Homo sapiens: one gene and its partners. The protein of the gene in region 1 interacts with the protein of each later gene in a pairwise test. Each region holds a gene or a part of one and is shown on either strand. Other genes may lie near its edges. The genes, in order: GTF2A1L, MAFF and NKX2-3.

Evidence for each region.
Region 2: the proteins of GTF2A1L (region 1) and MAFF interact in a two-hybrid assay, tested with the Homo sapiens proteins (one large-scale study listed by BioGRID and IntAct).
Region 3: the proteins of GTF2A1L (region 1) and NKX2-3 interact in a two-hybrid assay, tested with the Homo sapiens proteins (one large-scale study listed by BioGRID and IntAct).

The regions. Positions count from the first base shown.
Region 1 is NC_000002.12:48,673,341-48,676,995, reverse strand, and holds part of GTF2A1L (TFIIA-alpha and beta-like factor), read right to left. Parts: intron 1-3,655. UniProt on the Homo sapiens protein: May function as a testis specific transcription factor. Binds DNA in conjunction with GTF2A2 and TBP (the TATA-binding protein) and together with GTF2A2, allows mRNA transcription.
Region 2 is NC_000022.11:38,211,845-38,214,506, reverse strand, and holds part of MAFF (transcription factor MafF), read right to left. Parts: intron 935-2,662; exon of another isoform or gene 824-934; coding exon of another isoform or gene 801-823; intron 685-800; coding exon of another isoform or gene 654-684; coding exon 618-653; intron 88-617; coding exon 1-87. UniProt on the Homo sapiens protein: Since they lack a putative transactivation domain, the small Mafs behave as transcriptional repressors when they dimerize among themselves.
Region 3 is NC_000010.11:99,531,386-99,535,140, reverse strand, and holds the start of NKX2-3 (homeobox protein Nkx-2.3), read right to left. Parts: upstream 2,200-3,755; 5' UTR 2,010-2,199; coding exon 1,652-2,009; intron 411-1,651; coding exon of another isoform or gene 184-410; exon of another isoform or gene 183-183; intron 157-182; coding exon 1-156. UniProt on the Homo sapiens protein: Transcription factor.

The DNA of each region.
Region 1 (3,655 bases):
AACATTAGGGACGAAATAGATTTCTTAAAAAATGTTAGGAAGATTGAGTAGCCACCTGGAAAAAAAAAAATAAAAAGTTGAAACCATATGTTACATTATACACCAAGACAAACACCAAATGAATCAAGACTTGAGTATATAGATATAGATATAGATATAGATGATATAGATATAGATATAGATATATAGATATATATGAAATACTTGAAGAAAACATGAGCTTCCCTTTAAAACTCTGAGGTAAGAAAGAACTTTTTATTCATGGCTCAAAATGCAGAAGACATAAAATTAAAGATTGACAGATCCAAAATCTACATATTGAAAAGAAAAAGCAATGAAAATAACTGAGTAAAAAGTACTTCTGTGTATAACAAAAAGCTCATTTTCTCCAAAATAATATTGAGCTCTTAGAGATCACTAAATATAAGACCAAATAATCCAATTTTTTAAATAGACAAAGATTATGAACAAACAGTTCACAAAATGTAAATACAAAAGGCCCTTTAACATATGGAAAGTTAAAAATTCCAACAAGGTATCACTTTTCATCTTTCACAATGGCAAAATGCTCTTAGAGAGCATTTTGGGAATACCTAACCACGTACATTTGCCCTTTGACCCAGAATCCCATTTCTGGGGATTTAATAGATATATCTGCACACATTATGAAAATGTCTTATATACATAGTGGTTCAAATCAAAAGACTGAAAAATCACAAATATCCATCAGTAGAGGATTGGTTAAATGAATTTTAGTAATCCTACAATAGGATATTATACAGCCATTAAAATATCATCACAAAGAAAGCCTCCTCATATGGGAAGATCTGACAGATACGTTGTTTAAAGAAAAAAAGCAAGGTACAGAATATAGTGTTATTTATGCTATCTTTTGTATTTGTATTTGAATAAAGAAATTCGATGAAAACTAATATAACTACTTATTTGCATTCAAAACAGGAAAAGGAGCTACTAATAGAAAGCAAAAATGATGAAGGAATGTGAACCAGACTTTTCATTGTATACCTTTTTACAGTATTTTGATTTTTTAACCATGTGTATGCACTATCTATTCAAAGGAAATGTACATATATATAGACTATTATATAGAGAGATATATAGATACATATAAAGAGACTATATATACACATATATACATATCTCTCTCTGTATATATAAAGAAACCATGCTACACACCTAGAAATTAATCATTGTATAGCATCTAAGGGATAAAGTCAGCTATAAGCAAGTCTGCTAAACTGTCAAACGAAGATATAGGATATTCAAATGGTTTCACATTCCACTATAAATAGTGTCCTATTTGTAGCACAGAACACCTCCATCTGTAGTAAAAGGTTTCATTTCACCATTAATTTTCGCTATAATATCTTTATTATTTAAATCCTTATATTAATTTTAGACATTCTCTAGGCCTCTGAAACAAAATATCTATACCATTTAACTAATTCTCACCCAGTATGTAAACCAGTGGCCTTCATTTAGCCCTTTTGCACTGTACATGTTTATATTTTCAAAGTTTTCCCCCCAATTGTTAATCTCTAAATTTTAAAGATAAATTCCATCTGTTAATCAAATCCAAATAAAATATACTAAAGAAACCAAACACTGCTTCTCAAAATTTAACGGCCATACAAATCATTTTGGAGTCTTGTTAAAATGTACATTCTTATCCAGTACTCTGGCGTGGGACTCAGGATTCTGCATTTGTAATAGTTTCCCAGAGGAACTGATACTACCTGCCTTTAAAATAAGCTGAGTAAGTTAGCAGAGTGGCATAACAAAAGCGTGCTAAGCCCATAAAACACACTGAATTAGTAAAGCTCTAAAAGAGACTACTGAAAGTTCTTTCAATTCACTTGAGTTGGGTTACATTCAATACTATTTGAAACAAATCAACCAGTGACCAGCACTGGAAAGTTTTTCTTTCATAAAGATTCACTATAACAGTGTTCCTCACCCCACTTTGACCTTTAGATACATTCTTTTGGCTATCTTCTGACTACATCACTCCCCTTTTAAAATGTTTCAATGGTTCCCCAATGCCCTGCTTTCCATTAATTTTTTACCACTGTTCTTAAAATATTCACTAAGTAGAAGGGTTCTCAGATACTAGATTTGTTAGCAGTGTATATTTAATATCACCTCTATCTATTCCATAAGGTTATTATAAGAAACAAAAGATAATATATGATAAAACACCGCAAAAATACAAAGTACTACATAATTAATTACAAGGTATCTCCCACATTGCGGCAAACAAAGGATACCACATCCATAATGGTCTAGAAAATTCTGCATGAGACTTTATGGAATGTATATATAATTAAGTACCTTATAATGTTTTTTTATAGAAGGCAATATATTGTTTATAAGAAACTAAAACAAGTTTCAAACTAAGAACTGTTCCTTTTCTATCCCCTATTCCTTCTTATGTTTATATTTGTATTCAGCATCTAAATTGCGGTTTTCTATTTGTATAAAATGTTATAGTGGAGAAAGTGACCTTATTTTCAGAGAAAAAGATTTCTTTTTACAGCAATTCAAAACATTATTCTTTGTTTCCCCCTAAATATATTCAAATTGTGACTGGAAAAAAAAAAGGCTAAATATGTAAATACGCATTAGTTATCAGGGAAACACAAATCAAAACCGCAATGATATACCATTTCACACTCATTAGAATGGTTAGAATTAGAAAGTCGGATTATGGCCAGTGCTGGCCAGGATGTGGAGAAATTGAAACCCTCGAACACTGCTAATAAGAATGTAAAATAGTACAGCCACTTTGGAAAATAGTCTAATAGTTCCTTAAGCTGTTACCACATGACCCAGGAATTCAACTCCTGAGTATATGCCAAGACAGATGAAAACATATGTCCACGCAAAAACCTGTACCCAAATGTTCATAGAGGCATTATTCATAGCAGCAAAAAGGTATCTATGGGGTTCAGAACACATTACCCCATATGTGTTCTGGCATCCTGACATTTGAAAAAATGGCAGAAGCAGGAAAGTCTTTCTGACCTTGCCCTCACCCTTCTCCCCTGAACCAGGCCATAAAAGGATTATCTGACCTTCCTTTAAAGTAAGTCATAAAACCTTTATTACAGAGGTCCCTACCCTATACACAAAGGAAAATAAGTGTCCTTATCTCTGAAGACACAGAGACACAAAAATCTGAACAAACAGGCCTTACTACGTTTCCTCCAGTTTATTGTCATTAGATCATATCCTTTTTTCCTCCTATCATACTTCGGTATGACTGTCCAGAAAAATAGTTTTCCCTGTTTCTTTGGGTCTTCATTTCTAAATATTCCTGTGTCGGCTGGGTGCAGTGGCTCACACCTATAATCCCAGCACTTCCCAGGTGGGTAGATCACGAAGTCAGATCCAGACCATCCTGGCTAACACGGTGAAACCCCATCTCTACTAAAAATACAAAAAATTATCCGGGCGTGGTGGCAGGCGCCTGTAGTCCCAGCTACTTGGGAGGCTGAGGCAGGAAGATCCTTTGAACCCGGGAGGCGGAGCTTGCAGTGAGCCAAGATCACGCCACTACACTCCAGCCTGGGCGACAGAGCCAGACTCCATCTCAAAAAAAAAAAAAAAAAAAAAGTTTCCTGTGTCAGTAAAA
Region 2 (2,662 bases), on another chromosome or scaffold:
CAGATGCCGGTTCAGCTCGCGCACCGACAGCCCCATCAGCGCCTCGTCCGACAGGTGCGGCGTGTTCTCGCTCAGCTCTCGCTTGATCTGCGGGCATGAGGAAACTGAGGTCCAGGGGACTGGGGACGGGCCCCCCCGCTCCACCCGCGGTGTTCCTCTTTCACCGCCTTAGCCGCCGAGGTGGTGGGTGGACTTGATCCAAAACCCCGAAGGGGAGCAGGAATCCGGGAAGGGGAAACCGGGCCAGACTAGGATCGGGACACAAAAGGAGGCCACCCCGGGGCTCAGCCTGAATTCTAACCTAGCGCCAAGCCCTGGACTCAGCCAGAGAAACCCAGGTCGGAAAGCACCTTTGAATGCCCCAGGGGACATTGACCCGATGGGGAAGGAGGCCTGGAGAGGGAAGTGACCTACCCCAGGGACATGCAGCCTGTGACCAGAGCCCAGGCCTCCTGGTCCCAGCCCATGGCTGTGGCCCTTCCCTTTGGCATCATGAAGGCCTGGTGCCTGCTGAGCCACCCAGGGGATTCCAGGAAAGAAGGGGAAGTTGGGATGAGGAGGCTCTGCATGGGCAGGGAGGGAGGGCTTCACTGGGTTGACAGAGGCTGCCTCCTCACCTTTAGAGCTTTGCTGGATAGGGGATCCACAGACATGTTTGCAGAAGGTGCCCTCTGGGCTGCAGACCTAGGGTAGAAAGGAGGTCAAAGTCACTGTTTTGTTTTTGGTTTCCCATTTAGAATAAAATCCAAACTCACTACCTTGCCATTCAAGGCCTCTGCTATCTTAGAACTGATTCATACCTGCCACCTTCCTCTCTCCACATTGGTCCACAGGCCTCCTTGAATGGCTCCTTCCAGCCGCGGGAGCTGTGCACAGGCTGTGCTCTTTACTGTTCTAGCCCCATGGTGACTCCTCATCATTTAGGTCTTTGCCCAATGTCACCTCCTCAGGAGGTCCTCTTTGACCATTCTGGCTAAACGCCTCTGTGTCACATCACATAACCCCGCCTATTAACCCTTGTAACAGTCACCTCTTCTGCATTTCTCATGCTTGGTTCCTCATCTATGATTTGTTTCTCCTTCCCACTCCTCCTCCACCAAAACGGAAGCCAATGAAGGCAGAGGCCTTCCCTGTCTCACCACGGCATCAATATGCCTAAATCAGTGCCTGGTATATAGTAGATGGCTCAGTAAGTGTGCACCAAATGAATAGATGTGCCTCTCCTGACCATTCTTCCACATGGGGCTTGGACATGTGCCTTTGATTTGATTTTTCAGAACTTTTCTTTCTCTTTTTCTTTCTTTCTTTTTTTTTTTTTTTTTTTTTTTTTGAGACAGAGTCTCACTCTGTCACCCAGGCTGGAGTGCAGGGGCGCGATCTTGGCTCACTGCAACCTCCGCCTCCCGTGTTCAAGGGATTCTCCTGCCTCAGCCTCCCAAGTAGCTGGGATTACAGGTGCCTGTCACCACGCCCAGCTAATTTTTTGTATTTTTAGTTTATTTTTATTTTTAGAGACAGGGTTTCGCCATGTTGGCCAGGCTGGTTTTGAACTACTGACCTCAGGTGATCCACCCGCCTCAGCCTCCCAAAGTGCTGGACAGGTGTGAGCCACTGTGCCCAGCCAATTTTTCAGAACTTTTCTTAAAGTATAACCTACATACAGAAAAGTACACACAGCATATGTGCACCAGTAAATGCCTTTACACAAAGCCCATCCAGCACCCCGTAAGATACAACATCAGCCAGTCCCCTCTCTCCCCAGGCCTCCTTCATCTAGACCTCTGTTTTGGGAAAGTTTTCCCAACCTCCTGGGGGCTGCCCCATACTAACTCAGCATGCCCTAGGCAGATGGGGCAGCCATCCCTAGACCAATGAGGGCCTCTCATCTCCTAATCCTCCCTCCCACAGGCCTGACAGCCACATGCTCCTTCAACAACTATTTATTGAGCTCTTTGCCAAACATGTACTTGGTAATGGGGAGAAAAAGGTGAATAAAACTCGTGGAGGGTCAGTGGTCATTGCTCTGGGCTGGAGAAGGGGACCATCTCCCAAAGTCCCCTTTAAAGCAGCAGTCCTCTCTGTCTCTAGCTGATAGGATCTACTTTGCCAATCCTCTCAGGTTCTCCGCCATGAGAACCTGAGTTTTCTCATCTGTCTCCAAGGGGAGGGGGCAGTGATAAGAAGCCAAGGAAAATAAAGGAAGATAGGCTGGGCGCGGTGGCTCACGCCTGTAATCCCAGCACTTTAGGAGGCTGAGACGGGCAGATCACCTCAGTTCAGGAGTTCAAGACCAGCCTGGCCAACATGGCAAAACCCTGTCTCTACCAAAAACACAAAAATTAGCCCAGGCGTGGTGGTGCATGCCTGTAGTCCCAGCTATTTGAGAGGCTGAGGCAGGAGAATTGCTTAAACCTGGGAGGTGGAGGTTACAGTGAGCCGAGATTGCGCCACTGCACTCCAGCCTGGGAGCCTGGGTGACAGAGTGAGACTCCATCTCAAAAAAAATAAATAAATAAAAAGAAAACAAAGGAAGATGCTTTGTGATCTGAGCTGTAGCATCCTATAAACACGTACCGTATCGGAAAGAGCATCACCCAGTTTTGTGGACAGCAGAGGGCAAAAGCCAGATCCAAGTCCTGGTTCCTTGAGCTGTCTACAGGGT
Region 3 (3,755 bases), on another chromosome or scaffold:
ACCGCTGCTGCTTGAACCTGCGTTCCAGCTCGAAGACCTGGGCTTGCGAGAAGAGGACCCGGGGCTTCCGGCGGCTGCGTGGCTTCGGCCTCTCGCTCTCCTCCGCCGCCTTGCAGTCTCCGGCCGTCTCTAGAGACTTCTTCAGCTGGCAGCTTTCTGCGGAAGAAGCAAACAACAGCGTCCTTAGCTGTTCCCGGCCGCACCGCGGCTCCTGTCCTGGAGCACCGTGACCCTTTTTGGTGGCTGCGCAGAGCGTGCGGTAGTAAATGGCTGGACTTTTGGGAACGTTTGTGGCTCCTGGCGCTGTGGGACCCTGAGACAGCCCCAGTACCCAAAGAACGCCCTTAGCAGGCGGAGGCGCGTTTCGTGGAGAGGGGTAGTTAGTGCGTGTTTATTTGGATCTTGAGCATCTGCGAGAGAAGAGATTACTCTGTATTAAATATGCGGCTCGACGTGCTAATGACTATTTTCAGGATGAAGGCTTGCAACTACATAATAACTACAGTATTTGCAAACTCGTTTGCATTCTACTCCACCAAGGATAACTGAAGGTGTGAGGCGTGTTGGTATGAGTGGGCCGGTGGGCATGGGTTGCGCGAAAATCTGTTCTGAGTGTAACGCTTGTGCATGGCTCAGGGACTTGTGTGTGTGTGTGGCTTATAAAAGACTACAAGCGAATGTTATGACGACATCTGTGTGCACTTTGAAAATGAAGTTTGATTGACTAGTTATAGACAGTTTCATGCCGATTTTCGGCTCTGGGAACTATGAGAGCATAGGCCTTGGCCTCTGCCACATCAAACCGCCTCTTGGGGAAAGACTGTGATTCTGTCCTCTTAAATACACTTCCTTGGGGACTTTATTTGATTATCCCATCTCCCTATCAATTCACTTCCCATCCGATGTGAGCAGCCAAGATCTCGGACTCAAGTTCGGCGCGTTTTCTATTAGGCCCGCAGCCTGGGACACAAAGCAAAACGTTACGGATTTTCAAAAAAGGCTGGCGCCTTAGGGATGTGAGAGCTATGGTCGCGCGGAATAGACATTGTTCCCACGCACTTTCCGATCATCTCCTCTCTCTCTACCGAGTGCCACGGGTTCAAGGACGCTGAGCTCCAAGCAGAGAAGGGAGGAAACCGCCCAGCTGGCCTCCACCAAAGTTCCTGCCCCTGCGGGTGCGAGAGACACAGGCTGCTTGGGCTGTCTTTTCGGAGAAGAAGGGGTGGCTGCCCTGGGCTAAGAGAACTCATCTCACCCTAGAGGGAAAACGAAAAAGGTCCAGGCTCCTGCCCTTTTTGGGGGAAGAGCCTTTTGGGGCGGGGGGAAGAGCAAAAATACTGCCAGTTATGAGGACCCAGGCGCTGAGCCCACGTCGCCTCTCAGCATCAGGGCAGCAGTAACCACCTTCCCTTCCCTCATTTCCCCCTTTTGGGGGGAGTAGTTGTCAGGGTCACCTCGTCCTTGTCTCTCCACCCCGGCTCCCTTGCAGGTACCTGCGCTTTGTGGAGCTGTCGGTGACCAGGGCGGAGGCATGGCCCCAGCCAAAGGGTAAAGGGATGGGCAGCTGCGCTGGCAAGGTCTGTGGGCTGTTTGTGTGCGCTCTGCCATTGCTCCAGGTGTGCGGGTGCGTTTTCTTTCCCCCTCTACTCACTTTGGCTCCGGTCCCTCACGACCTCGGGCTCCTCTTCATGTTCCTTGGGCTCGCTGCACGAGTCTCGCAGGACCGTGTGGACATAGCCCTGGGGACACAGCCCTGAATCCCCGTGGCCGTCTGCTGCGGCTAGTGAGTTCAAATAGGACAATTTCTCGCCCTCGTCTTCCTCGTCCTCCTCCCCTCCGTCAGAAAATTGCGTCCCCTCAGCGGCGGCCAGCATGCAGGGCGCAGAGTGGAAGTGGTGCTCCAAGTCCGCCTGCAAGTGCGCACCATGGAAGTGCTGGTGCTGCTGCTCCAGATTCAAAATGTCTTTGACTGAGAAAGGGGTGGAGGTGACCGGGCTTGGTAACATCATCAGGGCCACTTAATTGTCCAGTCCAAATAATAAATCCCGGCGGGGGCGGGGAGGCAGCGCGGCGGCTCCAGCTCTCCTCCTGGACTCCGCCGCTGCTGCCGAGTCGGGCTTTTGACAGACGCGGTCCCACTCCAGTCTAAATCGCCTCCATTGGCCGGGACCTGGGGGTCTGGGTTTTGTTACAGCCACTGCAGGGACTGGGGCCCGGGCTCCTAAGCCTCTGTCCGGGAGATTTGCGTCACGTTGGGGGGGCGGGGCTGGCGCCCCAACCTCCCTCCCTATAGGTTCTGGCTCATGTGGGCCACGCCCCCTGCTCTCTGCGAGTGGGATGTTGCGGCTCTACCAGAAATAGACAAGGACTAGTATAGAGTCCTGAAGTCCGAGACGCTGCGGGCGAGGCTGCACAGATCCGGTTCCTGAACCATTGATTCCCGCGTGGCTGCACCTTCCCGACCTAGGCCAGTTCTGGGAGGCTTGCTGTCCACGAACCAACGCCAGGGAAGGATGCCCCAGGAGTGTGTTTTTTTCAGCTGCTGCGCGGGGCAGGAAAACTTCCTGGCGGGTAAATACTGGGCGCTGGATCCACGAGGAGATGCAGTGTTTTATCTATCTATGGGTGGGCGACATGTCCTTTTTCAACTTGTTGCCTTTGCTCAAGCTTTCTCTCCACTTGGAACATGTTTCTGACACTTAGCCTCCACGAGTGGAAACTGTTCTCCAAGGAAGAGCTCCTAGATCGTCTAGCCGGAAGTCCCCTCTTTCAGGCTCTGAACCTGCAGCTTGTGTTAGCAAAGGACATGCATGTCACTTATCACTTCCCACTTAATTCTATAGCTGTATGTGCCTGCCTGGTCGCCCCAGTTAGACTGTAAGCTCCATGAGGGCAGTGTCCCGGGGTTGCTTTTGCCCTTGTATCCCTGGCAGCAGCCGCACAGAGCAGTATGTGAAAGGAAGATAGAGTTATGACTAAACTTTGGTATTCGACAGCTCTTGCTTGGCCTAGTCAGTGTGTGATCTTCGGCGTTTCTAAGTCTGTTTTCTCGTCTATAAAACGAAGGCAGTAATACCTTTTTTGGTTGTTGCTAGGGTTGAATGAGGCAAAACATGCCAGAATCTTAGTGCACGGCCTCACGCGTGTTAAGCGCTCAGTACGTGTCAACGACTGCTTTTCTGTATGGGAGGTCAAGCAGTGTTTGTTGACTGCATTGGTGGTGCGTGGCTGGAGTGTGGCACATACTGAGAGCAGGATCTGTCCTCACAAGGGAGGTGACCCAGCCTTGGCAGCCTTCTTTTCCACCTATTGAAATCAGGAGCCTGAATGTAGGCCTTGCCTCTCCGACAGGCTTTTAAAATTTCTCTACCTACACGCCTTCTGGCACCTTCATGAGGCCCTGGTTGTTTTCTGGGGGAGTCTATACAGTCCCCCACAGATTCTGGAAACTCTGAGCTGGAAACTCTGGGACCATCTTCTCCCACAATAGGCATTTGCTCGCTACCAGGCCTAGCCCAGTGAGGAGCAGCGGGCGCTGCTTTGAGGGCCACAGAAAGACCCGTGTGCAGCGCTGGCCTTAAAAAAATAGGGAACGGTTCCAGCTCAACCGTGGCTGTCCTCATCCGGCCCCAGCCAATCCAAGCATTTTTTGGCGGTCAGGATGGCGGAGCTGAAAGAGACCCGTCTCACCTGGAAGGGGCAGGTGAAAGGTGCAGGGACGGTGGACATTGCCTCCGAGCGGCATAAGACACCGG